Linked DNA regions of Homo sapiens. The protein of the gene in region 2 interacts with the protein of the main gene of each other region in a biochemical or structural test. Each region holds a gene or a part of one and is shown on either strand. Other genes may lie near its edges. The genes, in order: PTPRO, NTRK1, PTPRC, SORT1, PTPN12, TIE1 and PTPN22.

Region 1 (4,111 bases), on a different chromosome or scaffold from region 2:
TGATAGTAATTATAGTAAAGAGATATGGAACCCATTACATATTTATAGGTTTGTTCCTGGCAGGTCAGTGACACCACAGACACAAGGATGCTACCGTAGTTCTCTTGGGAAGATGTCTAGGACATCACAGTAGTGGTTGAGCTTAAAACACGGATGCTCACATATAAACTGCTTTTCAGCATGTAAACTGTTTTTTAGCATATAACCTTCTTTAAGTTTTTATGTGTTACGTATTTCATTCCTTATTTATTTATTTATTTATTTATTTATTTATTTATTTATTTTGAGATGGAGTCTCACTCTGTCACCCAGGCTGGAGTGCAGCCTTATCTAGGCTCACTGCAACCTCCACCTCCTGAGTTCAAGCGATTCTCCTGCCTCAGCCTCCCGAGTAGCTGGGATTACAGGTGCCCACCACTATGCCTGGCTAATATTCGTACTTTTAGTAGAGAGAAGATTTCACCATGTTGGCCAGGCTAGTCTTGAACTCCTGACCTCAGGTGATCCGCCCGCCTTGGCCTCCCTAAGTGCTGGGGTTATAGGTGTGAGCCACCGTGCCTGGCCCCTTTAACTTTTATAACAAGCCAATGAAATAAGTACTTTTATTAAATCTCACTTTTCAGATGTGAAAACTGAGGTAGAGATAGAGTAAGTAGAGCTAGGATTCACACACAGGAAGTCTGATTCCAAAATCCATGCTCTCAACCCTGCATGAGACTTCCTGGAGCACTATGAAATAGTAAAAATTTGGAGATACGATAATTGCACTAAGACTCAGTTTGGTCATTATTAGTGGTGCAACTTTGGACAAATGAGTTAACCTCTCTGAATCTCAGTCATTGCATCTGTGAAATGGATAAATCATGGAATTTTAGAATTGAAGAGAACTTTAGAGACCCACTGCTTTATTTTGCTGATATGGTTTGGCTCTGTGTCCCCACTCAAATATCATCTCGAATTGTAATCCCCACTTGTCGAGGGAGGGACCTGATGGGAGGTAATTGGATCATGGAGGTGGTTTCCCCTATGCTGTTCTCAAGACAATGAGCGAGTTCTCATGAGATCTAATGGTTTAAAAGTGGCAGTTTCCCCTGCTCTCTCTCTCTGTCCTGCCACCCTCTGAATAAGGTGCTTGCTTCCCCTTCGTCTTCTGCCATGATTGTAAGTTTCCTGAGACCTCCCTGGCCATGCAGAACTGTGAGTCGATTAAACCTCTTTCCTTTGTAAATTACTCAGTCTCAAGTAGTTCTTTATAGTAGTGTAAATATGGACTAACACATTTGCTGATGAGGAAACTGAGGCCCAGAGATATAAACAAGCTGCCTGAAGTCATAGAGCTAGTAAGTGCTTGTGACCTAACCCAGACCTCCTGTCTCTTGAGTCATTGCTTTTGAAAATCTGATTAATTTACCTCATAAGGTTGTTGTTGGGATCAAATGAGATAATATGTGTTAGAGAACTACATAAACGTGAAGTGTTACTACTGTTCTGAAGAGTACTAGTGTAGTGGGGGCACAGAGGGTGGAGGTTGGAGTAAGCAAAACAAATTCAATTATTTAATAGTTTTACCTTATGACTGACTTGATAATCAACCCAAGGACATGGGTCATGGCAGGCTAAATGAAAATGGGTTTTGTTATCAAATATTCCTGAGTTATAATCTTAATTTTGACACTTGGGGAAGTCACTGAAATTTCTGCGATTCAGTATGTATTTTAATGTGAAAAATGGGGGTAATAAAAGTGTTTTCTTCATAAGGCTATTGGCAGTCTAGTGCAAATTCCTACCTGAATTCTCATCTCTGGGAAGGCATTCAAAGCTACATAAATGTAAATTATAATGCAACGACATAAACATATAATAAATTGTAATGTAACAGCTCAACACCAGAATATGTGAAACAGTTTGGTCAGGAAAAACAGGCTGCAAATATACTTTTGCTGGTGTGTGACTACATTATGCTGAGCAAACGTAAGCCACCCTAATTTTTGCTCATTTACCCAGTTAGGTGTAAGTATTTATGTCTGCGGTATCCATTTTTTAAACCAAAGAAGTATACATGGTACATCTGAATAGCTCATTACCACAGAACAGAATCTCCTTAAAAAGTCATTCTTTTAGCAACAGAGAAAAAACAAAACTTCTAGGAGCCTATATTTTTCTAGATAAATATTAAGATGCATCTCTTTAAAGTAATTGCATTTTTGAGCAATTCCGACATATTCTCAATGGCACTAGTCGCTTTAGATACTCTAAGAATAGAGCAGAGTGCATGAAAGATATAAGTGGTTCCATAAATATTTCTTGAATGTACAAAAGAATGAATAAATATGCAAACAGTATAACTCCAGCCTGGGATTTTACAACTTGACATGAGAAGCAAGATGTACATAAAATAAATCTAGAAAAATACCACACACTAATAAGTTATGTGTTTTGTGCTGTCTACTATGAGACAGAATAGGAATTCAGAGAAGAGAAAAGTCAGAAAGACCAGAATTGTTGTGGAGTTTTCGTGGAGGCTGTTCACATGTGCGGTGGATCTGTACTGGTGCAGAAAGAAACTATTTGGTAAGTGAGGCATTTTTAGTCTTATGGGAAGAATGAAATACTCGACTTTGTCCTCTTTCTTAAGTAATCACATGTCCAAGGTCTCTCACACTTGAAAGACACACAAGGCAGTTGGGAATACCCTTTCTACGCATCTGATAAATCTTTAAGGCCTTTCTTTTGCCAGAGGTGACATTTTTGGTTTTTCTTTTAAGTAAAAATATTATATGGGATATTTTCAACATTTTTAAGCTGCTACATAAGCTGAGCTCCTCTTCTGCTCTCATCCGTCCTTCAACGAAAGGTGGTATTTGCCTTTCCAGATGGCAATAGGATATGTGGTGGTTATCCTTTTCTGAAAGCAATTTTTATTCTTTGCCTTCTGGTTTTTCTTTCTACTGATCGGAGGCACATATAACTCCTGATAGGGTAGGTTACTGATTTTTGACCTCTATACTTCCAGTAAACATAGTCAGTTTAGCTAAACACGTTATAGAGGCAGGCACTGTTTGTGCAACCTTCAGAGGCTAGCTTTTGCTGTCCTGTTACCCTTATGGAATGGTAGAGGCCACCCTAGGACTTGACACTGGGACTTTCAGGTTGCTCTAGCTATGACTTTTCCCACCAGTTTTATTGAGACCATCGGGGTGTACCCACACTTGAATCTTTGTCTTTCTTTTGAGCCTCACAAGCTCAATACTCTAATGAGATTTTTCACAGTCCTATAATATCATTTCGTTATGGGCTCAAACAAATGTCGTATTTCCCAAACTGTATGTCCACATCCTTGGAGGCTTTGTTATGGCTAATGTGAAAGGTCAGTTTAATAAATGTTCAATTATCACAATAGTAAAAAAAAAATCCTCAAGTTAAACCCCTGGATAGGATTGCTACTATTAAACAAGCATTCATTTCCTCTGCTATCCAAAGCTTGTGGATCTCAGCCTCTCCTGATCTTGAAGACTTCTCATCATCCCTAAGGTTTGTGAATAATTGACATCTGAGCATCATTAATCCCACCAGTTCCATTGTTCTAGCTCCCCAGTAAGTGTAAAATGATCTCTTTGTTACTTACTGATATAAAAGCTGAGTGATTTTGCTGACTGACTTTTTCGAGTTTCACAAGATCCTGAGGAACTAAAGGTTGTCACAGATAACTTATATTTCCCAGGTTCCTTCAGTTCTGCAACAAATTCATGTGCTTCTTCATCCACCATCAAATATTCAGTAAAGTTCTCTAAATCATATATAAAAAAGAGAAGATACATGAATAGACACCTGGAAAGGCCCTGGGTATAGACAAGTCGATTAATGAAAAAAAATTAGGTGTTTTAAATGTTCCCTCCTTTTGTCAAGTTCAATTACACCTCTAAACTAAAGGTACCATTAAAGAATAATAAATAAGAGTTCAGTATTTTTACAGTCTTCCAAATAACAAAACTCAAATACGGCATTCAAATCAATAAAACTAGGGATGGGTCTACACTGTGTATCTTTATGTACTCCTACCCAACAAAATTATGTGTACAAAATAGAAGTAGATAATCAGGAAAAGTTAACA
Region 2 (3,500 bases):
TCCTCCCTCCTGCTGCAGTCTCCTTCTCGCCGGTGGGTGAGTAGCCCAAGGTGGAGGGCAGGTTCTGCCTGGTCTCTGGAGCTGAGGCTGGGGCAGAGGGTACAGCTGAACTGATCCCTGAGAGACCAGCTGGGGCCAGGGTTGGGGGGTTACTGGAGGCTACAGTGTGTGTCAAGGCTCACCCCTCCTGCCCTGTGTCCCTACAGACACTAACAGCACATCTGGAGACCCGGTGGAGAAGAAGGACGAAACACCTTTTGGGGTGAGATAGGAAGTAGAAGCTTGTGCAGACTTTGGGACCGGGAGGCTGGGTAGAGGCTCATCTGCATGTCATTTCTGGTCAGAGCAGGGAGATCACTACCATCTGGCCTGAGCTCTGACGGCCACCCGCACAGCCACTGCAGGGGTCCCCAGGGGAGGATGAGGCAGGTCTGGAGACCTGGCTCCGGGCTCCCATGCAGGATGAAAAAATGGCTTACTACAGGAGGCTCTGAGAGTACAGGAGGAGCCCCTGGATCTAACTACCCCTGTCCCCCACCAGGTCTCGGTGGCTGTGGGCCTGGCCGTCTTTGCCTGCCTCTTCCTTTCTACGCTGCTCCTTGTGCTCAACAAATGTGGACGGAGAAACAAGTTTGGGATCAACCGTGAGTCGGGGCTGCAGAGGGCTGTCTGTCTGTCTGTTCTCCTGGCTTTGTTTCCTACTGGCTCTTCCTGACTCTGTCTCTGGGGGGCTGTGCACATGGGAGTTCCAGGGCGTGTGAGTGTGTTTGGGGTATAAATGAAGGCCTGGCTGTGAGGCTTGTGAGTGTGAGTGTGTGTGGGAGCGTGTGTCGGGCTGGTGCTGGGGTAGTTTCAGAGGCGGCAGCTGCTAATTGGTGGCTGGATTGTAGTCAAGCATTAAGTGGGTCTGGGAGGTCTGGGCTCTGTGGGGGTGGAGGGGGAGTTCTTTGGTGCCCATGGGGCCAGGGGTGGGACAGGAGCCAGCACAGGGAGAGGCGGTGGTGCCCCCTTCCCCCTGCCTGCTGTCTCGCTCCCTAGCTTCTCAGTCTCTCCCCTGCAAGTTACAAGGTGGGGGTGACCAGGCATCCTGCAGGCAAGGGTGGGCAGGGCCAAGGTGTGGGCAAACCCCTCCATGCGGCTGTGTCTCCTCTCTAGGCCCGGCTGTGCTGGCTCCAGAGGATGGGCTGGCCATGTCCCTGCATTTCATGACATTGGGTGGCAGCTCCCTGTCCCCCACCGAGGGCAAAGGCTCTGGGCTCCAAGGCCACATCATCGAGAACCCACAATACTTCAGTGATGCCTGTGAGGGGCTATGCTGGGTCAAGGGCAGGGACGAGTGTGTGTGTGTGTGTGTGTGTGTGTGTGTGTGTGTAGAAGCCCCTAGGCCTGAACGATCCCTCCCTTTCTCCCACCCCTCCCCAGCCCTATTCCAGCCATAGGCCCTGTCATATTCTTCTCAGGCTGAGTCCAGCCTGGCTCTTAGCTGCATCCCCTGCCCAGAGTCACAGCTAGCCCAAACCATGTCCTCTCGGGGCAGGTGCAGCCCCACACTATGACATGGGGCTTGCTGAAGGGGTGCAGGTTGAATTTTAGCCCCCATGCAGTCCCTCGTCTGGGCAGCCTTGTGCAGCACACAGCCCTGCCAAGACAGTCCCCGCTACAACCCCAGCCCTCCCAAGACTGGGGCTACCGTCTGACCCTGCAAGCCCCCTCAGGTGTTCACCACATCAAGCGCCGGGACATCGTGCTCAAGTGGGAGCTGGGGGAGGGCGCCTTTGGGAAGGTCTTCCTTGCTGAGTGCCACAACCTCCTGCCTGAGCAGGACAAGATGCTGGTGGCTGTCAAGGTGAGACCCTGCCCCGGGGGGTACTGCTGGCCTGGGTCCCACCCCCAGGAGCTCCATCACATCAGGACAGAGTGGGGGGAGATGCAGAGGGCTGACATGGCTGGATACCGGGGTGGGCGGGCTGCCCTGGGTGAACAGCAGTGAGGGCTCGGCCCCCAACTCAGTCCTGTCCCTGCCGCTTCCATCCAGGCACTGAAGGAGGCGTCCGAGAGTGCTCGGCAGGACTTCCAGCGTGAGGCTGAGCTGCTCACCATGCTGCAGCACCAGCACATCGTGCGCTTCTTCGGCGTCTGCACCGAGGGCCGCCCCCTGCTCATGGTCTTTGAGTATATGCGGCACGGGGACCTCAACCGCTTCCTCCGGTACCAGCACCTGGCCTCAGCGCTGGCCCCGGCCCCTGGCTCTGGGCCCCGTCTTCCCTTCCCTATAGACATCCCTGCTTGTCTTTCAAACCAAGGGGAGACACCAAGAAAGATCAGGAAGGCACATTCCCGTCCCCAGGGAGCTCTGAGATGGTAGAGGAGGCAGATGTGTGAACATAGGGGTGACTCTTGCAAAGGACAAGTGTCAGTAGTCAGGGAGGTTGCGATGGCAAAGGCCGTGAGCTAAAACTTTGGGGTGGGTGGGCTTTGCAGAGGGTGTATGTGCATTTGTGTGTGGCACACAAAGGCCAGGCCTGTAAGGGTAGCAGTTTAGATAACGACAGTAACAACGACAGTAATGAACATTTATCAGGCACCTTCTATGTTCCAGGTGCTATGTTATATACTTTATAATTTATTATTTTTTATTTTTTAACATGTATTTATTACTGTTATTGTTTTAGAGTTGGGGTCTTGCTCTGTTGCCTAGGCTGGAGTGCAACGGTGTTGCAATAATAGCTCACTGCAGCCTCAAATTCCTGGGCTCAAGCAATTCTCCCGCCTTAGCCTCCCCAGTAGCTGGGACTACAGGTGCACACCATTGCACCTGGCTCTACAATTTGTTCTTATTATGGTTCTATGTGCTGGTACATATATATCTTGTATAGTAATATAAATATGTATTTATTTTTTATGGCCTCCAAGCATATATTGCAATTTACACTTGAAGCAAGTTACAAAAAATTCATTTCTTTGGCTTCGGACAGAACAACTCTGATACATTTATCTATTTGTGCTGATAATTTTAATAACTTCGAGAAATGTGCCTGTTTCACAGATAAGGCTTAGAGAGGTTCAGTGACTTGCCCAAGGGCACACAGGTAGTGAATGGCCCAGGGGTGATGTGGCCCCAGGCAGAGCCCCTACTCTCAGCCCCTGATGTGATGGTCACATGTTCCCTCGGTCTAGTCCTTCTCTGATGAGATCACCCCCGGGAGGATGGGGCAGTGTTTGCAAGGCAGGGAGAAGAGCAGGGTTTGGAATCAGCTGCCACTTATGAGCTGAGCCTTCTTTGCCAAGTAGCTTTCCTCTCTGACCTCACTTTCCTCACCAGTAAGAGGGACAGTGTGGGGGCTGTGGTTCTGGATGAGCAAGCGCTGTATGGTTGTCCAGTTGATGGTCATGATCTGGTCCCCAAACATCCCTTTGGGAGTGATGGGTCATTCATGCAGTCAGGCTGCAGGACTCAGCTAGGAGAGACCCCTGAGTCTTGGGCTTATCCTGTGGACCAG
Region 3 (4,111 bases), about 42 Mb from region 2:
ATTAATATTCAAGGCATTTCTCCGGAGAAAACTGGATAAAAGAGGCAAAGAATAACACAAAGAACAATAAGTAAAGAAACTTCATTAAAAGAAAGATATCAATACCATATTTCAACCACCAAATAAAGAAAAAGAAAGGCGTATTCAGTGTTGGTGAGCCTCTCAAGAAGCAGTCATTTCATACACTGATACACCAGGGCAATTTGGTAAATTTTATAGAAAAAAAAAGTTACATATCCAAAAAGCCTCAAAATACATTTTGACCCAATAAATGCATTTTTAGGAATTTATGAAACATAAATTATTAAAGACATTCAAAAATTTTGCTTTACCAATAAGTGTGTTATCGGAATGTTGTTTATATTAGAGACCAACATAGTTATAGTTAATAGAATGTGATAAAGCCATACATAGAATATTATACAGGCATTAAAAACTACATAGTAGTTAAATATTTAACATAGAAAGGTGTGTGTGATATAGTGATATATTAAAAATACAGTTTTAAAACTGTATTTTGAAAACTGTGTACTCAGAATGTTGATAATACGTGTTAAGTGCATATAAATGTGTATATTATGAAGTTACATGTACAAAATACGATCAGTAGACAGTGAGATAATGAGTGTTTTAAATTCTGTATGCTCACTAGTATTGTCTAGTGTTTATTTCAAATATTTCCTAACCTCAAGGTACCTGTGAAATTTTGCAATTGAAAAATTCCACATTAATAAAGATAAAAAGCCAAAGTAAAGAAAAGGTAGATTTGGTAAAGTAATAATCTGTTGTGCATAAAGTGTTGTGCTTCTTAACACAGAAGCAATAATTTAGCTATAATTAAGTCATATTGAAGTTCTAAAATATTCCAATGAAACATTTGCTTTAAACCACTGACTTGAGCTATAGGAATAAAAATTTTAGAGTCAAATATTTGAGACTCTTTAAGTGTGATTCCATTACACATCAGAGCTTCTCAATCTCATGTGAGCAGTGGTCTTAAAGTTATTTAAGTACTATGAATCAATCATTATAATGTAGTTGGTACTATAGTAATGTAGAGAGCATACTTTTACCTTAAAAGTGTAGTCTGTTGAATATTGAAGATCTTTTACACGGAAATCGCAATTCTTATGCGACTCATTTCTAACCAGAGTATTTCCAGCTTCAACTTCCAAATGGTAACGTTCATGGGGGCCATTACGGTCCCTGGGAGGCCTACACTTGACATGCATACTATTATCTGATGTCATGGAGACAGTCATGTTCCAGACCTGGCTTGGAGCTATCAAAATGAAGAAAGATTTGTTATTAATAATTTAATAGATGCATATGTAAATTACTTGACAATACTTGGATATAGTATAAAGTATTTTAAGTGTTAGCTTGGGGGTTATAAATAAGGAAGTTATGATAGTACATAAATTAAAAAACAATATCAAAACCCTGAAGAATAAATCACTCATTTATTCAGTAAGTATTAGCATATAGGTTGTACATGAAGCCATGAGAGTTATTGCAATCCCTGAAGGAGACTGTGTAGAATTAGAGAATAGAGAAAAAGGGAAGGGAGTGGGGAAGAGGGGGAAGTTTGGGGAGAGGAGAGGAAAAATGTTGTTGATTGGGAAACCTCCAAGTCCTATTACACAATCTAGACCCTTCTTTCCCGGAGTGCTAATGTTATCCTGGTAAACACCTAGATGGGTTCTTCAGGAACAGAAACAAATTGTCTTCTTTTTCTGTGATACAGAAACTCAGGAAAACAACAAAAGCATAGAGCTCCAGGACCAGAACTTTTCAAACCAAAACCTAAATGACCTTAAAAGTGTCTTATATTCAGCCCCAAATAGCACAATATTTCTTCACAAGTCTAGTGCCCGTTAGGGTCTCTGGAGCTATAGATGCTGCCTTAAAACACGGCATTTCTTCTTCCCTGTCCTCGATGGAGGTTAACATGTGCCCCAGAAGCAGATCTAACTTTGGGCCTGGAAACTATGGAGAGATTATACTAGTGGCAAGAGCCAAATGCCATTGAAAGGAAACCTTAAATGGATAATGTGACATAAAATAGAATAGTAAGTAGTTGAGGGTAACGAAGAGAAGAAAATGCTAATAAAATATTACATTTTATGAAATGTTTTATCAGATGAACAGAGGTTAGTAGGCTAATGCTTTATGAGACATTGTTAGGTTTCTGATTACAATTAATATTTCCAGATAGTAAAGACAACAGCAAACAGTGAATGTTTTAATCTAAGTTGGTTAAGTACTTAACTGCATGAAATTGCACAAACTGATGCCAATTAAGATGCTTTTATGCTTTGTCCTTAAAATTCTATGACTATATCTGAAGAAGAGAGAGAATCCAGGATAACGGTTTTTAAACTTTTAGATTTTACGTGTTTATAAGCCCTAGATGTTAACAAATGTGCCAGGTAAATGTGCTTGCTAGAATAAAGATAGAAATATTGTAGGCTAAAAAGTTCATACCTTGCTTTTTACCATTTATGGAAAGAAGCATTAAAACATATAACTTACGAGCACTTTTAGTTGTGAAATGACACATTGCAGCACTTCCATTACGTTGCACTTTTGCAATGATGTAGGCATGTAATGATAAAACATATTTCGTATAAGGTTTTAAATTTTGCAAATCATATTTGATCAGGTTTTTATCCAGATTGAGGCAATCTTTTTCTGAGGAAAAATGTGAAAAAAAATTAGTAAGTCGTTAAAAGTCAGTACTACCACGTACCTAATTAATTTGGTCTCTACATCACATTGTTCCAAGTGAACTCCAAACTATTGAGTGATTGAAAAATAAGTACATCCTTGATACTCAAAAGTACCTACAATTATCAGCCAGTGTATTGAACAAACTCAATTATCATTGGTAAAATTAAATATTGAAAAATTATGGTTTTATATCATTAATTTGGTACATAAAATATTTAATAAGTTCAGATTCATTTGTGAAGACGATCTCTTTTGTTTCTGAGAAAACACAGCCCCCAGTGTATACTGTAAGTCTTGAGTTGCATGTTTCAGAATGATTCTTTTTTAGAAAACCTTTTCTGATATGTAACCTCCAAACTTTGAACATCGGTATTAGCTACTGTTTTGAATGTTAGATGCAGAATCCATTTGATCATCAGTCATTGGGTTGATTCTATCATAGTAATTTGGACACTACAGTAATTAACGGGAGCTGTGAGAATGAGGGAGTTTCATGCCGGAAGTGGAATTCAGCTGTTCATTGAAAGGTAAGTGGAACTGAATACATGTAAGGGAGAAAAGAAAATATTACAAACGGAAGAAGGAATGTTTTTGAGTTTAGTGACAAACCTGATCAGGACAACAGCTCTGGCTGGGGAGGCATATGAGAGGTAGGACAGTGTCTAAGTGTGTTTTCACACTCAGGCAGAAGACTTAGCACTTGTTAAGTAAAAAAATCACCAGCTGCTGCTATTTTTGAGTAGCCAAGTGACATCAGGAAAGAGGATGATTAGAGTGGCAACATGTTTCTGGATAGCAGCAACAGTAATAATAATATCAATAACGATTTTTAAAAATAATAACTCACTGTATGTGCCAAGCACTGTTTCAAGGGGTATACATGAAATAATTAATTTAACCATCACTGCAACTATTAGTTGGTACTCACTATCATCTGATTTTACAGATGACAAAACTGAGCCACAGAGAGATTAAGCAATTTGTTCTGTTTTTTTTTTCTTAAAAAAATAAAAGGCATTACACAAAATAATTTCCAGCAACATCATGGTGGTCTTGAAAGGTGCCTATTGCTTTCAGTAACTTTTGAAAAATAATCCTTTAAATCCAATAAAGCACAAAAGATCTCTTCCCCAATTCCCCAATTACCAAGAAGCTTCACTGTCACTTGCCATCATTAAGTTAACGAGATAAAACTGCAGTTCTCCAAAATATCTTAAGCTAAAAATGTGAGGAAAAATAAACAAACACACTTTGGGAGGCCGAGGCGGGCGGATCGGATCACACGAGATCAGGAGATCCAGACTATCCTGGCTAACACAGTGAAACCCCGTCTCTACTAAAAATACAAAAAAATTAGCCGGGCGTGGTGGCGGGCGCC
Region 4 (4,111 bases), about 47 Mb from region 2:
TTTAACCATATATGCTTGAAGCTATTATAACCAGATGACCAGGTATCTGATTACTGTTTTCTGATTATTAATCTGATTATTTTCTTCTCTATCTCCCATAGCTTCAAGAAAGGCATTTTGGGCTGGGCGCGGTGGCTCACGCCTGCAATCCCAACACTTTGGGGCCGAGGTGGGTGGATCACGAGGTCAGGAGTTTAAGACCAGCCTGGCCAAGATGGTGAAACCCCATCTCTACTAAAAATACAAAAATTAGCCGGGTGTGGTGGCGGGCACCTGTAATCCCAGCTACTTGGGGGGCTGAGGCAGAGAACTGCTTGAGCCCCAGAGGCGGAGGTTGCAGTGAGCCGAGATAGTGCCACTGCACTCCAGCCTGGGCAACAGAGCGAGACCCTGTCTCAAAAAAAAAAGAAAAAGAAAGAAAGGCATTTTGAATAGATGATCTCTGCCTAAACCTATCTCCCACCCTCCTCTTTTTTCATCCTGAGTCCAGTGATACAAGTAGTACATTTTTTTTTCCTTTTAGATATGGGACCTCACTATGTTGCCCAGGCTGGCGTACAGTGGTTATTCACAGATGCGATCACAGTGTCCTATAGCTTTGAACTCCTGGGCTCAAGCTATCCTCCTGCCTCAGCCTTCCAAATAGCTGGAACTCTAGATGTGCACCACTACCTACCCCTAATAAATTTTTTTGTATTTTTGGAAGACAGTATCTCGCTCTGTTGCCCAGACTGGAATGCAGCGGCGCAATCATAGCTCACGACAGCCTCAAAACTCCTGGGCTCAAGTGATCCCCTCACCTCAGACTCTTGTGTGGCTAGGGCTACCGGCATATGCTACCATACCAGGCTAATTAAAAAAATTTTTTTATACAGATGGGGTCTCACTATGTTGCCCAGGCTGGTTTCAAACTCATGGGCTCAAGTGATTCTCTTGCCTCAGACTCCAAAAATCTTGGGATTATAGGTGTGAGTCACCCTGCTTAGCCAGGGCTAATATGTCTTAATCCAGATGCAGTTCTTGTGAGTACCTATAATAATTCTCTAGAAATATTAGAGATATGAAAAAAATTAAGCACATGTACAAATATTTAAGCATCTAACTGGTAATGTGTCAGAAGCTTTGTAATGAAAATCATTACAAGAAATCCTCAACAAAAGAATATACACTAAATCCTGTACTATCTTCACAATGACCCTAAGAGGTAGTATTAGTACTCCCATTTCATAGATGAAAAATCTAAGGTTCAGAGAGGTTAATTTGTCCATGGTCACCACTGAAGTTTGAATCCAGATCTAATACCTGAGATCCTGTTCCCCCAAACTACTGCCTCAAACCATCATCAATTATATTAACAAAAGTTTGACATAATCACAAAGGCTTAAAAAAAGAAGAAAACCACTACATACACGTCTTACATTTCTGCCAATCTTGACTCACTTTAATTCTTGCCACCCCCACCCAAGCCTGTCATCCAACTCTGCCAAGTGATAAACCAAACGCATTTATGCCTCATCCGTCTGCTTTAATACACATGCTCCTCAGGGTTTGGCTCAAGGGCTGTATCTATCAGGATCACCTGGCTGACAAGCAGGCCCTGTGGGGGCTGTGACACATCAGCAGGTTTATTAAGGAATTATACAAATCATACTCATACGGTACTTCAAGGTTTCAAAATATTTTCACATATATCTTCCCTTCAAAACTTCATGATAATCCTCCATTTTATGTGACGGGAAACTGAGGCCTAGAAAGGCTAGTTGAGCTCTGTTGAGGGTACTATGACCTTGAGAAAAAGAGTAGAATTCACAACTATATTACTTATAACTGGGATCTCATAACTTTGCCTTATCCCTAAAGCAAATGCATTGATTTCAACACTCCTATGAAACACTTCCAAATGCAGCACCATGTTGGGACATCTGTGTTCTACTCCCAGCTCTTGGCCAGTAAGCAAGTCAGCCAGCCGCATCAGCAAAAGGGCTCTGACCAGCTAATCGGCCCAATAATCCATGATTCAAACCATTAAGCACATTATCAGCAAGAGTTCAACCTTATCCTTGTTCACAAATGTTCAGAAAAATCTGTTCATAGGCATCACTGTCTTACAGCTCCTGGCTTCCTCATGCCTTGGCTCACATTCTTCTTCAACCAGGTCCAGAAGTTTAGGAGTGCTTTTTGGAAACGTTAGCACTTCAAGTATAAAGGATGGTCTGCCTCACCTTCTGTTCTGCTTTCCTCTGGGACCTTCACATCCAAGACCAAAGCAATGGCCGGCCTCTGAAAGGGGAACTCTTCTTGGCTCCCCATTTCTACCTCTGGTTCCTCCAGCTCTAGCCTCATGTCTAGCACTATCTGTTAAAACTCTCTCTTTCACAAGTAAGTCCTTTTGCCAAACTCACTACCCACGCCCCTCCTCTCTTTCCATCCCCCACAAAAGAGCTATCTTTTTTTTAACTTCCCTATATGTTTTCCTGGAAACCTTAGTCATACTCCCCATCAACTACCTCACCCTAAAATAAAGTTTCTGTTGACCATCCCTTGAACATATCTTGGATTTTCCTACTTCCTTCGTGCCGTTACAGATCTCCCTAAAAATCACCTCCACTTTGATTCTCTCTTCAGCCAGAGGGCTTTCCCAGAACACTGCACTGCAGTGGTCAAGCCTTCTTCCAAACTCCCAGTGAAACATCTCTGAACACCTAAATCCTTAAGATAGCCCCAGTGCTTTGCTTTGTTTATGCACAGGTCTGGACTCCACTCAGTACATGGCAGGCAGCTCAGTAAGTGTCTAAATGAATGACATCTATATAGTACTTTACCTTTAACAAAACACGTTGATAAAACTTCTCATTTGACCCTCCAAACAATCCTAAGAGCTGCTGCTCTAGTTTAAAAAACAACTGTAAAGACCACTGAAGTTAAGTGATTTTCCATAATCACACAGCTATGAAGCAGCAGAGCCAGGACCCAAATCTGGGTATTGAGACATCTCTTTGAGATTTTGTATACAACATATTTATGTTTTGAATCCTTTGTGACAAATAGCAAATACTAGATAAAAATGATTTGAACTAACTTGTCTGGGAATTATTGAAGTTAATACAAATTTTCCTTCCCAGTTCAATTTCTCCTGGTCCTTCAGAGCAATTGTACTGTGGAACCAGACTTGCAAACTGGCTTCAGTACAATATTAGAAAGTGTGTGTGTGTGTGTGTATGTGTGTGTGTGTGTGTGTGTGTGTGTGCGCGCGCGCGTTTTAGGACATACAGGAAGACTAAAATGCTTATCCAAAGCAAACATAAGACGGATAGTATTCATAAGCCAGAGAAGGAACATACATACGTTTTCTTCTGATAAAAATAAATCAAGCCAATTAATCACATATAAGTTTCTACATGTGAATATATTTATGGTAAGCTGACCATCTATTTTCAAACACACAGGCAGCCAGGATGAAGAAAAAAAGCCCCAGTTTTGGCAGAGTACTATAGGAAAGGGAAAAAGAAAAATGAATTTACTGCTATCTGTTGGGTTTGCTTTTGGACTATTCAAGCTAGTAGCTTTTATTAGCATTAGATTTTTCAGCCAACAAGGAACAAACGGTAAAATATTACCCCCAAAATAAAAGAGAAAAATGTCTTTCATAACTACATGAAAAAAAGTACTCCTGCTATCTTTAAGAACATGCATATTTCACTGAAGCAAGTTCTGGAGGTGGTAGTAAAACACCCCTAAATGTGAAATCCATGCTATGTTCAAGTTTGACTGGGAAGTCAAACAGCCACAGTTTGCTTCTAAATTTGGAATCAGCCAGGAAAACATTTGTGATCACAACCTCTGGCCTCTCCCATATGAATCATAGAATTTTTGAAAGAAATTTTAAAGCTAGTCCAAAACTTCTTGTGCTGTAGATGAGGAATCGAGGGCCAGAGACTAAAACACAAAACAGAAAATAAGTTACATTCACAGAAAACTTCCTCGGCAAAACACGACAGGTTCTGAGTGGAAGGATTTTGTTTTTACTGTGGTTTCCTGAGATTGAGATTGGGGATAGAGAAGGAAAAACAGCCTCCATCTTTCACCTAAAAATTTTCATAGGTATGAGGAA
Region 5 (4,111 bases), on a different chromosome or scaffold from region 2:
ATTAGTGGTTCTCAATATACGGTCTGGGTACCCCCTCCCCTCAACCCTTTTGAGGGAGTCTATGAGCTTTAAATAATTCTCAGAATAATACTAAAATGTTACGTGCCTTATTCTTTAACAGCCAATACAATATATGCTTATGTATTCATGTTTTTTAAAAATTTCTCAGTTTTAATTTCAAATATAGTATATACTGAAAGATACAACCCCCAGAAACAAAAACTTTGGGATCCTCAATAACTTTGAAGAATGTAAAGGAGTACTGATGTCAAATGTTTTGAGAATGGTTATTGCAGGTGTTTAACAGAAAGAGCAATACTCGGAATCTAAGCAAACCATACTCAAATTCCTACTTTGGCCATTTCCTAAATAACTTCAGGTAAGCTATTTAACTTCTTAAAGCTTCTGTATCTTCATCTATGTGCAACAGACGTAACAGTATCTGGATATGATGCAGTTAGCAGAATTAAGATGCCTGATCTACCACAGAAATTCATTAAGGTACTTATTATTATTACCGTAGATTAAAAAATTAGCAACCAGTCCAGATTCAGTGGCTCACATCTGTAATCCCAACACTTTGGGTGGCCAATGCAAAAGGCAAGATCACTCAAGGCCAGGAATTTGACAGCAGCCTGAGCAACATGGCAAGACTTCATCTCTATAAACTATAAAAAATTTAGCTGGGTTTGGTGGCTCATCCCTATAGTCTCAGATACTAGGAAGGTGGAGATGGGAGGACTGCTTGAGCTCAGGAGTTTGAGTCCAGCCTGGGCAATATATAGTGAGACCCTGTTGCCAAAAAAAAAAAAAAAAAAGTCGGGGCGCTGTGGGGGGTTTCAACTAAAAACAATATATATCTAAATGAAGACTTAGCTTTGATAGTGACTTTTCTTTAACAAATTGTAAACCAGTAAAACAGGGTAATAATTATATAAACAATGCAATAACCTGCTTACTGCAATAGAATAAAAATATTTGCTGCAAAGAAGGTATAACTATTCCAAATTTAACAAATTTAGGGTATGTTATAATTAATATTACTTTTTATGTAATGTGATAAGCATAAATGTCAAGACTAAATATTACACTCTCATTTCATCTTCGTAACTAAAAAATTACCAAATTTCATTAATTATGTTAAATAACATAGTATACTATTTATATAGCTTGTTTTATTTTTTTAGTAGCTAAAAGTTGATTAGTTTGCAAAGACAAAAACTAACTTCACATGCTTTAAAAATAAAAATTGCTGTTACTTTTTTTACTTACAAAAAACTATAAAGCAGATATAAAGCAAAATAATAATATATATTATATATATTATTTGCATTTTGCAGATATAAAGCAAAATAATTTTCTAGCAAACCCATTTTACCAAATAAAACATTTAGGTAGTAGTATTATATTTTCTATTTTTAAAACATTTATTTTATTTTTTATTTTATTTTTTGAGACAGAGTCTTGCTCTGTTGCCCAGGCTAGAGTGCAGTGGCACCATCTCGGCTTATTGCAACCTCTGTCTCCCAGGCTCAAGCAATTCAAGTGCCTCAGCCTCCTGAGTAGCTGGGATTATAGGTGTGCACCACCATGCCCAGCTAATTTTAGTATTTTTTAGTAGAGATGGGGCTTCGCCGTGTTGGCCAGGCTGGTCTTGAACTCCTGGCCTCAAGTGACCAACCCACCTCAGCCACCCAAAGTGTTGGGGATTACAGGAGTGAGCCACCATACCTGGCCTCAACTTTTATTTTGGATTAAGGGGTACATGTGCAGCTTACATGGGTGTATTGTATAATGCTGAGGTCTGGAATACAAATGATCCTTACCAAAGGAGTGAGCATACTACCCAATAGGTGGTTTTTCAGCCCACGCTCCCCTCCCTCTCTATGTCTTCTCTTTGAAAACTATTCTCTATTCTCAAAACCATTTTTGAGAGTCTCCCTCTGTTGCCCAGGCTGGAGTGCAGTGGCACAATCATGGCTCACTGCAGCCTCAACCTCCCGGGCTCAGCCTTCTGAGTGAGTGGGACTATGGGCACATGCCACCATGCCCGGCTAACTTTTTTCTTTTTGTAGACACAAGATCTCACTATGTTGCCCAGGCTAGTCTTGAACCCCTGGACTCAAGTCACCCTCCCACTTCAGCCTCCCAAAGTGTTGGGATTACAGGCATGAGCCACTGCACCCAGCCTGAAAACTATTCTTACAGATAGTCTATAAATGGTAAGTACCTACATTTTGAAATTCAAGTAAGAGTGTCCTGATGAAGTAGTCTGTTCTTGCTTGTTCATCCTCCTAAATAAAGAGAAACATTTCTAAGTCAGTGAAAACGTTAAAACAAAAAGACACATCAAAACAAATAAAATACTTGTATCAAAGTCCACAATATAAAATTAATCTTTAAAATTCCAGATGTACCTGATAATTATAAAAAAATTCTAAAAGTCATCAAACATTTGAAATGTTTGAAGTGATAGACATGCTAATTATCCTGATTTAGTCACTCCACATTTTAAATTACACATACATGTACCAAAATCACATGTACCCCATTAATAAGTATAGATACTATGTGTCAATTAAAAATAATAAAAGGAAAAAAAGAGCTAGTAAGCCATGAAAAGACATGGATGAACCCTAAATGCACATTACTAAGTGAAATAAGCCAATCTGAAAAGGCTACATACTGTATGATTCAAACTATATGACTTCTGAGCTGGGAGCAGTGGCTCATGCCTGTAATTCCAGCACTTCAGGAGGCTGAGGCAGGTGGATCACTTGAGGTCAGGAGTTCGAGACCAGCCTGGCCAACATGGTAAAACCCCATCTCTACGAAAATACAAAACTTAGCTGTGTGTGGTGGCGCGCACCTGTAATCCCAGCTACTCAGGAGGTTGAGGCAGTAGAATTGCTTGAACCCAGGAGGCAGAGGTTATAGTGAGCTGAGATAGTGCCACCGCACTCCAGCCTGGGCGACAGAGCAAGACTCCGTCTCAAAACAAACAAACAAACAAACAAAAACAAACTATATGACTTCTGAAAAAGGCAAAACTATGGAGACAGTAAAAATAATGACTACCTAGGGTTGGGAAGGGGGTGAGATGAATGAATAGGTGGAGCACAGGACTTTTAGAGCAATGACACTATTCTGTATGATACCACAATGGTGGATACACGTCATCATATATTTCTTCAAACCCACAGAATGTATAGCACCAAGAATGAACCCTAATGTAAAATGTGAACTCTTGGTGATAATGACTTGTCAATGTAGGTTTGTGAATTGTAACAAAGAGACTGCTCTGGTAGGGAATGTTGATAATGAGGGCTACATGTGTGGGGACAGGGTGTATATAAGAAATCTCTGTACCTTCCTCTCAATTTTGCTGTAAACCTAAAACTGCTCTAAAAAAAATAGTCTTGAAAAAGTTAGGCAGTGGCTCACACCTGTAATGCCAGTAGTTTGAGAGGCTGAGGTGGACGGATCGCTTTAGCCTAGGGGTTCAAGACCAGCCTGAACAATATAGCAGAACCCTGTCTCTACAAAAAAATACAAAAACTAGCTGGACATTGAGGCGTAAGCCTGTGCTCTCAGCTACTTGGGAGGCTGAGGTAGGTGGATCACTAAGCCCAGCAGTGAGGCCAAGGCTATATAGTGAGCTGCGATCACGTCGCTGCATTCCAGTCTGGGTGACACAGTGAGACCCTGTCTCAAAACAAAAAACACTAAAAAAAAAATTTTTTTAAAAACCTTAAAATGAAGTCTCCTATCAGATAAAGTCTCCTAACAGATAGACCCAAACAATATGTACAAATAAGAGAAGTGAATTTGGGAATCAAGTTACCTACTAAACTAAGAAACTTGAAGAAAAAAAATTCATTAAAAAAATTTGTATAGACAGTAAAGAAAAAAACATCAATTTGCTTTTGTAAGTTTTACTTATACCTAAAAAAAAGTGTCTAAACGAATTACTTAAGCATCTACCACCCAATAAAATATCTGCAAAGTAGTAACCACCCCCAGAATCATGTAAATATACATAGAATGTCATTCCTCAGTACCAACCACCATATCCTATCTTCAACCATTTTACCTTTCCATAACACATGAT
Region 6 (4,656 bases), about 110 Mb from region 2:
GCTCACGCCCTAGTTGGAGGAACAGGCATGAACACAGCTGCCAAATGTAGGGCGCTGTGCTTTTGAGCACAGAGAAGGGACCCCTGCTCCAGCCTGGGGGAGCTCAGGGAGATGAAGAGATGCTTCCTGGGAGGTACAGTTGGAGCAGGGCACATTGGCGTGAGGACAATGGGGAGGGAGAGAAATCAGGGGCAGGGAGAGGGCATCCTAGACAGAGGGAACAGCCTGGACAGAGGCCTGCAGTGGCAATATTGTGGCAGGTGGAGGGGGCTCTCCAGGTTTGTGTGACTGGAGTACAAAATGTGAGGCTGAGGCAGGAGAGATCAGGTGGAGTCAGAGTCCAGTCTGGACGGTGGAGAGCCTGCGAGCCTGCCTTAGCTCCAGGACCCAGAACCCCTCCACCAGCCAAGCCCTTCCTTCTCTGTCTCTTGTAGCTGACTGTCAAGCAGTTCATTAGTTTAAATGCCACCTAGCTTATCAGTGTTTGAAAGGCTACCATGAGCAAACGAAGCTGGCATTTACTGACCGCCCACCACATACCAACCCCCATTTTCCACTGGATCCTCACAACCAGTGAAGTGGATATTCTTTCCAGTTACAGAGGAGGATCATGGTAATTATTCTACTGGCTTCTTTGAGCAAGCTCGCCCACTCCCCCAGTTTTAACCATCACCTCTGAGTCAGTAACTCGGGAACGGTCTTTCAGCTTGGACCTGCATTTCCATCAGCTTTTCCCAAATCTGCTCCTCTCCAGTGCTCCCTGACTCACTGGACAGCACCCGCCACTTGAGACACAAACTATGGAGTCATCTCTACTCCCATTGTCATAATAATGAATGTTTATTGGCTGCCAGTTATGCACCAGGCACTTTACTGATATTGTTTCATTTTACCATCCCAGCTATCCTGGGAGGTGGATGTTATTATCCCTGTTTTATAGCCAGGAAAGGGAGGCTCAGAGAAGTTAAGTAACTTGCCCAAGGTCATACAATTAGTGAGTGGCAGGGCCAGGTTGTCTGATTCTAAAGTCCACATCTCTGAGCACTGTGCTGCCTGCCTCATCAGTCATAGAATTCTGCACATTGTTTCCTGAACGCTTCTTGACTTCATCCCCACCCCCCCAGCCTGCCTTTGTTCAGCCCTCATCCTTACTCACCTAGACCATCCCAACAGCCACAGCCCCTCCTTCTGCAACTCATCCTCCACGGTGATCTAAGACCAAACCTGACCTTGTGACTTTCTTGCCTGTGACCTCCCATGGCTCCCTATTGCCCTCAGGATAATGTTCGTGCTCCTAAGCCCCGTGATGCTCCCACGCTATCCCTCCTGTTGTGTTCCTAACAGGCACCTTCTCTCCCATGCACCTCCATGCCTCTGAGACTTGCATTTTTTATGTTCTGGCTGCCTGGAATGAAGACCACCCCTCTTAGTGAAATCTTCCTTGATTCCCTTTTTGTCTCCTACCTGAGGCAGTGTAAGCTGAACTCCTCCTCAGTGCTCCTCTAGAGCTCCTGTGTCTGTCCCTGTTTAGCCCTCTTCCCCTGTCCTGTGTTCTGCACTAGACCATGAACCACTCAAAGGCAGCCTCTGTGTTCTAATCGGCTGACCAGCAGACTGAAGGAATCAGCTGCCACCTACTCAGAAATCCTTACCAAGCACAGTGCACTGTGCCAACTGCTCTGCATCATTTTCTCATTTAAACCCCATAACAACCATAGGAGGCTGGCATCATTTAATCTCATTGTACAGACTAGGTGTTGCCAGCCTCTCAACTAATGGCCCAGCACTTAGCACAACTCCTGGAATATTGTTGGTGCTCAATAAATGTTTGTCCAGTGAACAACTGAGTGAATCCAACACAATTACCCTATGAACACCCCCTGAAAATGGCCCTCCACAGATCCTCAGATCCAACACAGTCAGCGGCTACTCCTCACTCCTCCCCTGATCCCAGGTTGCAGTGATTTCTAGCACTTGCCTGTGTTTTCCTGGCCTTGATCTCACTTTCTAGTGGATCAAAGTGATGGCAGTGATGATAGGGCTTGTTTTCCAAAATTTTTTGTTGTGGTGAAATGCATATAAAATAAATTTTACCATCTTTTTTTCTTTTTAGATGAGTCTTGCTCTGTCGCCCAGGCTGGAGTGCAGTGGCGCGATCTCAGCTCACTGCAACCTCTGCCTCCCAGATTCAAGCGATTCTCTTGCCTCAGCCTCCCAAGTAGCTGGGATTACAGGCTCCTGCCACCACGCCCGGCTAATTTTTGTATTTTTAGTAGAGATGGGGTTTCACCATGTTTGCCAGGCTGGTCTCGATCTCCTGACCCTGTGATCCACCCGCTCGGCCTCCCAAAGTGCCGGGATTACAGGCGTGAGCCACCACACCCGGCAAATTTTGCCATCTTAACCATTTGTAAGCAGCATATAACCCAATGTGATTAAATACATTCCTAGTGTTGTCCCACCATCACCACCATCCATCCTTTTTTTTTTTTTTTGAAAAAGACGAAAGTCTAAACACAATGGAGACGGGGTCTCACTATGTTGACCAGTCTGGTCTTGAACTCCTGGCCTCAATTGATCCTCCCATCTCAGCCATCCAAAGTGCTGGGATTACAGGTATGAACCACCGCACCCGGCCCCATGTTTATAACTCTTTTAATCTTGTAAAACCAAGTAAAAATCTTGTAAAAACGCTGTACCTTTTAAACAAAACTCCCCATTTCTTCCTCCCTGCAGCCCATGGCAACCATCATCCTACTTTCTGTCTCTATGATAAAATAGGGTTTCTTGGGTAGAAATCAGGGCCTCGGGGCCTAGAAATGGGGTGAGGGACTCAGGGGAGACTTACCCACATGAGAAGCCAAGAAGAGGATGGGGAGCAAGAAAGGGGGCACCCGCCAGACCATACTCCAGAGGCCGACCCAGGCCAGCCAGGACGAGCTGGGCCTGGGGTCAGATGCTGTGGGCCTGACTGCTCAGCCTGTGTTGGTCAGTGTGGGTCGGTGCTGGGGAGGAAGAGGAAATGAGGTGGCTTGGGTGGGAGGGGTGGCAGGGTAGGGGGTGGGAGGACTCATTCTGCCTTTGAGCCTCTAGGCCCCCCAATCTGGCCCCCACAAGGCTGGGGATGGGTGTGGCCTGGGAGGAGTCACTTGAGGTGGGGGGAAGGTTATGGTAAGGGCAGACCTGGGGACAGCTGGACTGATTTTTCCCATCCCCTGTCTCTCTCCAGTACTCAGTCTTGCTGGCACAAAGGAGGCAGGAGGCAGGAAAGGGAGGAAGCCAGTGGCTTCCGCCTATTGAGGAGGGGGGTGGGGTGGGGGACATTGTTCTGGGGTCTCCCCTCCCCCCGGCACAAACACACAATACGGCCCACATGAGTCCTCATGTATGTGCCCCAGGACACAGACAGTTACATGGGTTTCCTAGAGAGCAGTTCACATACGAAACACAAAGGACCTCTGTGGGCCTGAGAAGCACATACACTCAAAGGAACACAGGGCCCTGGCAACAAAGAGCCTTCGAGTCTACCTTGTGTACCTCTCTCATTGTACAGATGGGAAAACTGAGGCTTGCTGTGCTCGAGGGCACCCTGAGGCTGTGGCAAGGCTGGGACTTGAACTTCTGACTTAGTCCTTGCTTTCTTGGTGCCAATCGCTCCACAAGGGCTCACATTAAGCAGTCCCGGGGAGCACACAGGGAGTATCGGTTGCATAGATAGTCCTCAGCTTAAGCTGCTAATGAAAGCTTCAGCTTATTGTCTGCCAGGTGTCATTCATTTTGCGGCAAACCCCTGCCTATTCCTGGGCACTGGGGCAGCAGAAGTCTGCCCAGGGAGGTGCACTCACTCTTGACGGCTGACAACAACCTGGGAGCAGTCGCACTGCTTTGGCAAAGTCTCTAAAGCCCCATGGATCTTGCCTCTGCTTCCCTCCCAGACTCACCTCTCCCTGCCCTGGCACCCGTTGCTCCACCTCTTGCCACCACTGGCAGTTCCCAGAACGGAACAAGACCTGTAGGTACAGAACGCCCACGAGGAGGCCCTTCCAGGGAGCAGAGGGAGCAACCGTTGGATGGGCAGCCTTGCTGGTTAAATCGATGACCCCTCTGACCCGGAATGGAATGGTTGGGATGGATGAGACTTGGTGTCAGTTTAGGTGACTTAGGTCTGGTAGTACAAACCCTCCCCCTGGGCCTGGGACATCTTCCCAGAGTGTGTTCTGGGTGAAGGCTTCATTCTCCTCTGAATGCACCGGGCTCACATTCACTTTTCTCAGGAGGCTGGGTCCCTGCAGCTTGGTTGAGCTGGTTTAGGCCCAGGGCTCTTCTGAAGCGCCCTGAAAAGTCCCAGGAGACGCTTTGACTCCTGGAGTAGCATAGAAAAGGATCGGGAAAGACCTCCCTACTGATGTGTGACCCACAGAGATTCCCATTCCTGGGCCTGAGGCTGGGAGGAGCTTTCTCTAGACAAGGCTTTGGGTGGGATGGGAGTAGGAGCAGGGGGAGAGTGGTGGATGCCTTACACTTCAGCTCATCCTGGTGCCAGACCTTTGAATCTGGAATGAAAAAGGAGCTGGAAAGTGCTGGGACTGTTTGTATGGCAGGATTCACTTTTGTGGAACTTTTCCTTTGGTTCTTGGAAGACCTGGGGGGCCTGAT
Region 7 (4,111 bases), about 43 Mb from region 2:
ATGTTCATTTTTACCCATGAAATGGAAAAGCCCGGATTTGAAACCAGTCTGTTTTTTTTCAAAGCCTCTTAACCTCTGTACTTAAACTGTATCAGGTAAAAATCATGACTTTTTTTCTGATATAACTAGCATAAAATAGTACTTTATTATGTTAATTTCATTCATTGGATTTCTGAGCCTTAAAATGTTCCATGATTATTTTAAATCTGCATTTCCTTATATACGTTTTCTGTTCATCTACTTTCCACAGTAACAACAGCTAATCCATAGAACTGTGTTCCAGACTCTGTGCTAAAAGTGCTTCACAAATAGAACTTCATTTACCTCCCAAAGAACCTTTTAAAATGGCTATCAATGTCCTACATGGTGTCTCTCCAGCTTCTTATAGCATGCTCATTTTCTTGTCCTTGCCATGCTTCCTCTGCCATAGGGCCTTGCACACATGTTGTTACCTCCGCCTTGAACATTCCTCACACTCCTCTTTACCTAGATAACATTTGGTAATTTTTTTTTTTTTTTTTTGAGACGGAGTCTCGCTCTGTCACCCAGGCTGGAGTGCAGTGGCACGATCTCTGCTCACTGCAACCTCTGCCTCCTGGGTTCAAGTTATTCTCCTGCCTCAGCCTCCTGAATAGCTGGGACTACAGGTGTGTGTCACCATGCCCGGCTAATTTTTTGTGTTTTTAGTAGAGACAAGGTTTCACTGTGTTAGCCAGGATGGTCTCTCGATCTCCCGACCTCGTGATCTGCCCACCTTGGCCTCCCAAAGTGATTATAGGCGTGAGCCACCATGCCTGGCCTTTTTTTTTTTTTTTTTTTGAGACAGGGCCTCACTTGGTCATCTAGGCTGGAGTGCAGTAGTGTGATCATGGCTTACTGCAGCCTCAACCTCTAGGGTTCCCATCTCAGCCTCCCAAAGTGTTGAGATTACAGGTGTGAGCCACCATGCCCGACTAATAATTCTTTAGATCTCAATTTGGTGGTCAATTCTTCAAAGAAAGCTTTCTTTTCTTTTCTTCTTTTCTTTCTTTTTTTTTTTTTCTGGAGACAGGGTCTTGCTCTGTCACCCAGGCTGGAGTGCCGTGGCTTGATCATAGCTCACTGCAGACTTGACTTCCTGGACTCAAGTGATCCTCCAGCCTCAGCCTCCCAAAGTGCTGAGATTACAACCATGAGCCACCACACCTGGCCAGAGAAAGCTTTCTGGACCTCTTTGAATAGATCAAATCTTCTATTGTAAGTTCTTATTAGCACCATTTGTTATTTTTCATAGCACTTACCACAATTTCAGTTTTTTGTTTGTTTGTTTGTTTGTCTGTTTTGAGATGGAGTTTTGCTCTTTTTGCCCAGACCAGAGTGCAATGGTGCGATCTTGGCTCACCGCAAGTGACTCTCCTATCTCAGCCTCCCGAGTAGCTGGGATTGCAGGCAAAGTTGCAGTGAGCCGAGATCGCGCCACTGCACTCTAGCCTGGATGACAGAGTGAGATCCCATGTCAAAAAAAAATATATATATATATATATATATTTATTAAATATAAAGGATTCATTGAATCCTAACAGAAAGAAGATACCTAGTTCTGAAGGCCAGGTTTAGGTGCTAACAGTTTAAACTATACTAGAAATCAGACTGGTACTATTGCAACTTCTGGAGATTCATTAGAAGACCAGAGACATATCAAAGATCTGGCTACATCTTGGTTCTATAAAGGAGACATAGATACATCCTGGTTCTGTGTATATTATAGTAATGATACTAACCAAACAGTTATCAACAAGGTACTTCCTACAGAGCAAGTGCACAAACATCTATGAATTGACACTACTCATTCCTGTGAATCAGCCTATCACTTGAACATATTTATCAGCATTTCTTGACCTTTGTGCACATTAAGGTGCAATTTTTAAAAATGCCACCACCAGAATAAATGTATCACATCACCTCTGAAGCTGATTTCTCTAACACCATCTCCAGCCTCTCACTAGGGACCATCTAGTCCTACATTTTCATTTACTCACAGGACACTTAAAACACATTTCTTGGCTGAGCGCAGCGGCTCACGCCTGTAATCCCCACACTTTGGGAGGCTGAGGCAGGCGGATCACTTGAGGTCAAGAGTTCAAGACCAGCCTGGCCAACGTGGTAAAACCCTGTCTCTAATAAAAATACAAAAGTTAGCTGGGCATGGTGGCAGGTGCCTGTAATCCCAGCTACTCAGGAGGCTGAGGTGGGAGGATCACTTGAACCTGGGAGGCAGAGGTTGCAGTGAGCCAAGATTGCGCCACTGAACTCTCTGCTGGGTGACAAGGCAAGATTCTGTCTCAAAAACCAACCAACCAACCAACAACACACACATTTCTTGCCATTTTCTCACATTTTATGTATCTAAAGTTGAACCTCTTGGTTTACTCACCCCAATTTAGCTATTGCCTACCCACCTACCCATTTGCCCCACTATTGCACTGGAAACTAACCTCGATAAGTTTGTCAGTCTTGTTGAAGATGATTGCATTGCACGCTCGTACAATTCAGTCTTGTCCTCCATTCCTACTGGTAGTTCTCCTGATTACTGGATTTAGAAGCCTGAGCTCCTAATGCCATTCCTTACCACTTGTACTTCTTCTGTCCTGATGGAGGCTTGGTATAATACTGACCTATATTTGCAAGGCACTGAGGAACTACCTTGCAGAGTTCTCGAGACAGCCAAACTTTGTGTTCTCCCACCTAGCACAGGAGGGCCAAGTTTAATTTTCCTCTCCCTAAAATGTATCTAAAATGCTACGTCTTCTATCCAGTAATGTAGTCCTTCAAGGCAAAGATATCGTGGTCTTGTGCTTTCTTTTACTTTCTGTTCTTTTTTGGGAGTGACTTTATTTTATTTACTAGTCTGTGAGAATAACATGCAAATGACTCAATCCGAATTTCTAGAATCTAATACTCCTTGTTATACTGGCCAGGATCCCCATTCTCCTCTCCTTTCTTGAAACGAAAGGGGTAGTATCATCTACAAACCAAATGAACTTACTATTAGCTTATCAAGCACACACAGAATCTGGTTTCTCACACATTCCACCCTATTTCAGGGCCCACGAGGGATGTTGAGCTCTCTCTTCACTTTATTCTCTTTTTTATTTTTATTTTTATTTTTTTTGAGGCGGAGTCTCACACTGTCACCCAGGCTGGAGTGCAGTGGTGTGATCTCAGCTTACTGCAATCTCTGCCTTCCAGGTTCAAGCGATTCTCCTTGCCTTAGCCTCCTGAATAGCTGGGATTACAGGGGTCTGCCACCATGCCCAGCTAATTTTTTTTGTATTTTTGGTAGAGACGGGGTTTCACTATGCTGGCCAGGCTGGTCTCGAACTCCTGACCTAGTGATCTGCCTGCCTCGGCATCCCAAAGTGCTGGGATTACAGGTGTGAGCCACCGCACCCAGTCTCTTCACTTTATCCTCTTGGCAACTATTCCCCTGACTTCTCTTGATGGTACTTCCTCTAGGGAACTCACACCCCTACCTTGTAGTTGGCAAAGAAATACCTTCACCCTTTAGATCTCATATCTTTTCTTCACAAACTTAAACCCATCCCCATGACCCTGCTTCCTCTTTTATACCCTTTTGCTTTCTACTTTCAGGGTTCCTCCTTTTCTGGTGTAGTTTATTACTTTTTCTGCCCTAATTTTGCCCTAATTTGTTCTTTCTTGGGATATTGGAGCCCGGGAGTCTGGCAGGAAGAGAGGTGGAAGAGAAAAATGAAGCCTGCCGGGCGCGGTGGCTCATGCCTATAATCCCAGCACTTTGGGAGGCCGAGGTGGGGGGATCACTTGAGGTCAGGAGTTCAAGACCAGCCTGGCCAACATGGCGAAACCCTGTCTCTACTAAAAATACAAAAAAAAATTGGCCGGGCGCGGTGGCTCACGACTGTAATCCCACCACTTCGGGAGGCCAAGGCGGGCAGATCACGAGGTCAGGAGTTCCAGACCATCCTGGCCAACATGGTGAAACCCCGTCTCTACCAAAAATACAAAAAATTGGCCAGGCATGGTGGCGGGCGCCTGTAACCCCAGCTACTTTGGAAGCTGAGGCATGAGAATTGCTTGAACCTGGGTGGCAGAG

The links.
Region 1: of the proteins of NTRK1 (region 2) and PTPRO, one has a biochemical effect on the other in vitro, tested with the Homo sapiens proteins (one large-scale study listed by IntAct).
Region 3: of the proteins of NTRK1 (region 2) and PTPRC, one has a biochemical effect on the other in vitro, tested with the Homo sapiens proteins (one large-scale study listed by IntAct).
Region 4: the proteins of NTRK1 (region 2) and SORT1 form a complex in vitro, tested with the Homo sapiens proteins (one study listed by BioGRID and IntAct).
Region 5: of the proteins of NTRK1 (region 2) and PTPN12, one has a biochemical effect on the other in vitro, tested with the Homo sapiens proteins (one large-scale study listed by IntAct).
Region 6: the proteins of NTRK1 (region 2) and TIE1 interact in a biophysical measurement, tested with the Homo sapiens proteins (one large-scale study listed by IntAct).
Region 7: of the proteins of NTRK1 (region 2) and PTPN22, one has a biochemical effect on the other in vitro, tested with the Homo sapiens proteins (one large-scale study listed by IntAct).

Annotation. Positions count from the first base shown.
Region 1 is NC_000012.12:15,503,584-15,507,694, reverse strand, and holds part of PTPRO (receptor-type tyrosine-protein phosphatase O isoform a precursor), read right to left. Parts: intron 3,788-4,111; coding exon 3,626-3,787; intron 1-3,625.
Region 2 is NC_000001.11:156,874,365-156,877,864, forward strand, and holds part of NTRK1 (high affinity nerve growth factor receptor isoform 2 precursor), read left to right. Parts: intron 1-18; coding exon 19-36; intron 37-206; coding exon 207-262; intron 263-541; coding exon 542-644; intron 645-1,155; coding exon 1,156-1,302; intron 1,303-1,715; coding exon 1,716-1,846; intron 1,847-2,035; coding exon 2,036-2,208; intron 2,209-3,500. UniProt on the Homo sapiens protein: Receptor tyrosine kinase involved in the development and the maturation of the central and peripheral nervous systems through regulation of proliferation, differentiation and survival of sympathetic and nervous neurons.
Region 3 is NC_000001.11:198,715,265-198,719,375, reverse strand, and holds part of PTPRC (receptor-type tyrosine-protein phosphatase C isoform 1 precursor), read right to left. Parts: intron 2,695-4,111; coding exon 2,536-2,694; intron 1,283-2,535; coding exon 1,074-1,282; intron 1-1,073. UniProt on the Homo sapiens protein: Protein tyrosine-protein phosphatase required for T-cell activation through the antigen receptor. Acts as a positive regulator of T-cell coactivation upon binding to DPP4.
Region 4 is NC_000001.11:109,387,553-109,391,663, forward strand, and holds part of SORT1 (sortilin isoform 1 preproprotein), read right to left. Parts: intron 1-4,111.
Region 5 is NC_000007.14:77,596,025-77,600,135, reverse strand, and holds part of PTPN12 (tyrosine-protein phosphatase non-receptor type 12), read right to left. Parts: intron 2,295-4,111; coding exon 2,235-2,294; intron 1-2,234. UniProt on the Homo sapiens protein: Dephosphorylates a range of proteins, and thereby regulates cellular signaling cascades. Dephosphorylates cellular tyrosine kinases, such as ERBB2 and PTK2B/PYK2, and thereby regulates signaling via ERBB2 and PTK2B/PYK2.
Region 6 is NC_000001.11:43,299,322-43,303,977, reverse strand, and holds the start of TIE1 (tyrosine-protein kinase receptor Tie-1 isoform 1 precursor), read right to left. Parts: upstream 2,997-4,656; 5' UTR 2,907-2,996; coding exon 2,849-2,906; intron 1-2,848. UniProt on the Homo sapiens protein: Transmembrane tyrosine-protein kinase that may modulate TEK/TIE2 activity and contribute to the regulation of angiogenesis.
Region 7 is NC_000001.11:113,861,323-113,865,433, reverse strand, and holds part of PTPN22 (tyrosine-protein phosphatase non-receptor type 22), read left to right. Parts: intron 1-1,156; exon of another isoform or gene 1,157-1,236; intron 1,237-4,111. UniProt on the Homo sapiens protein: Acts as a negative regulator of T-cell receptor (TCR) signaling by direct dephosphorylation of the Src family kinases LCK and FYN, ITAMs of the TCRz/CD3 complex, as well as ZAP70, VAV, VCP and other key signaling molecules.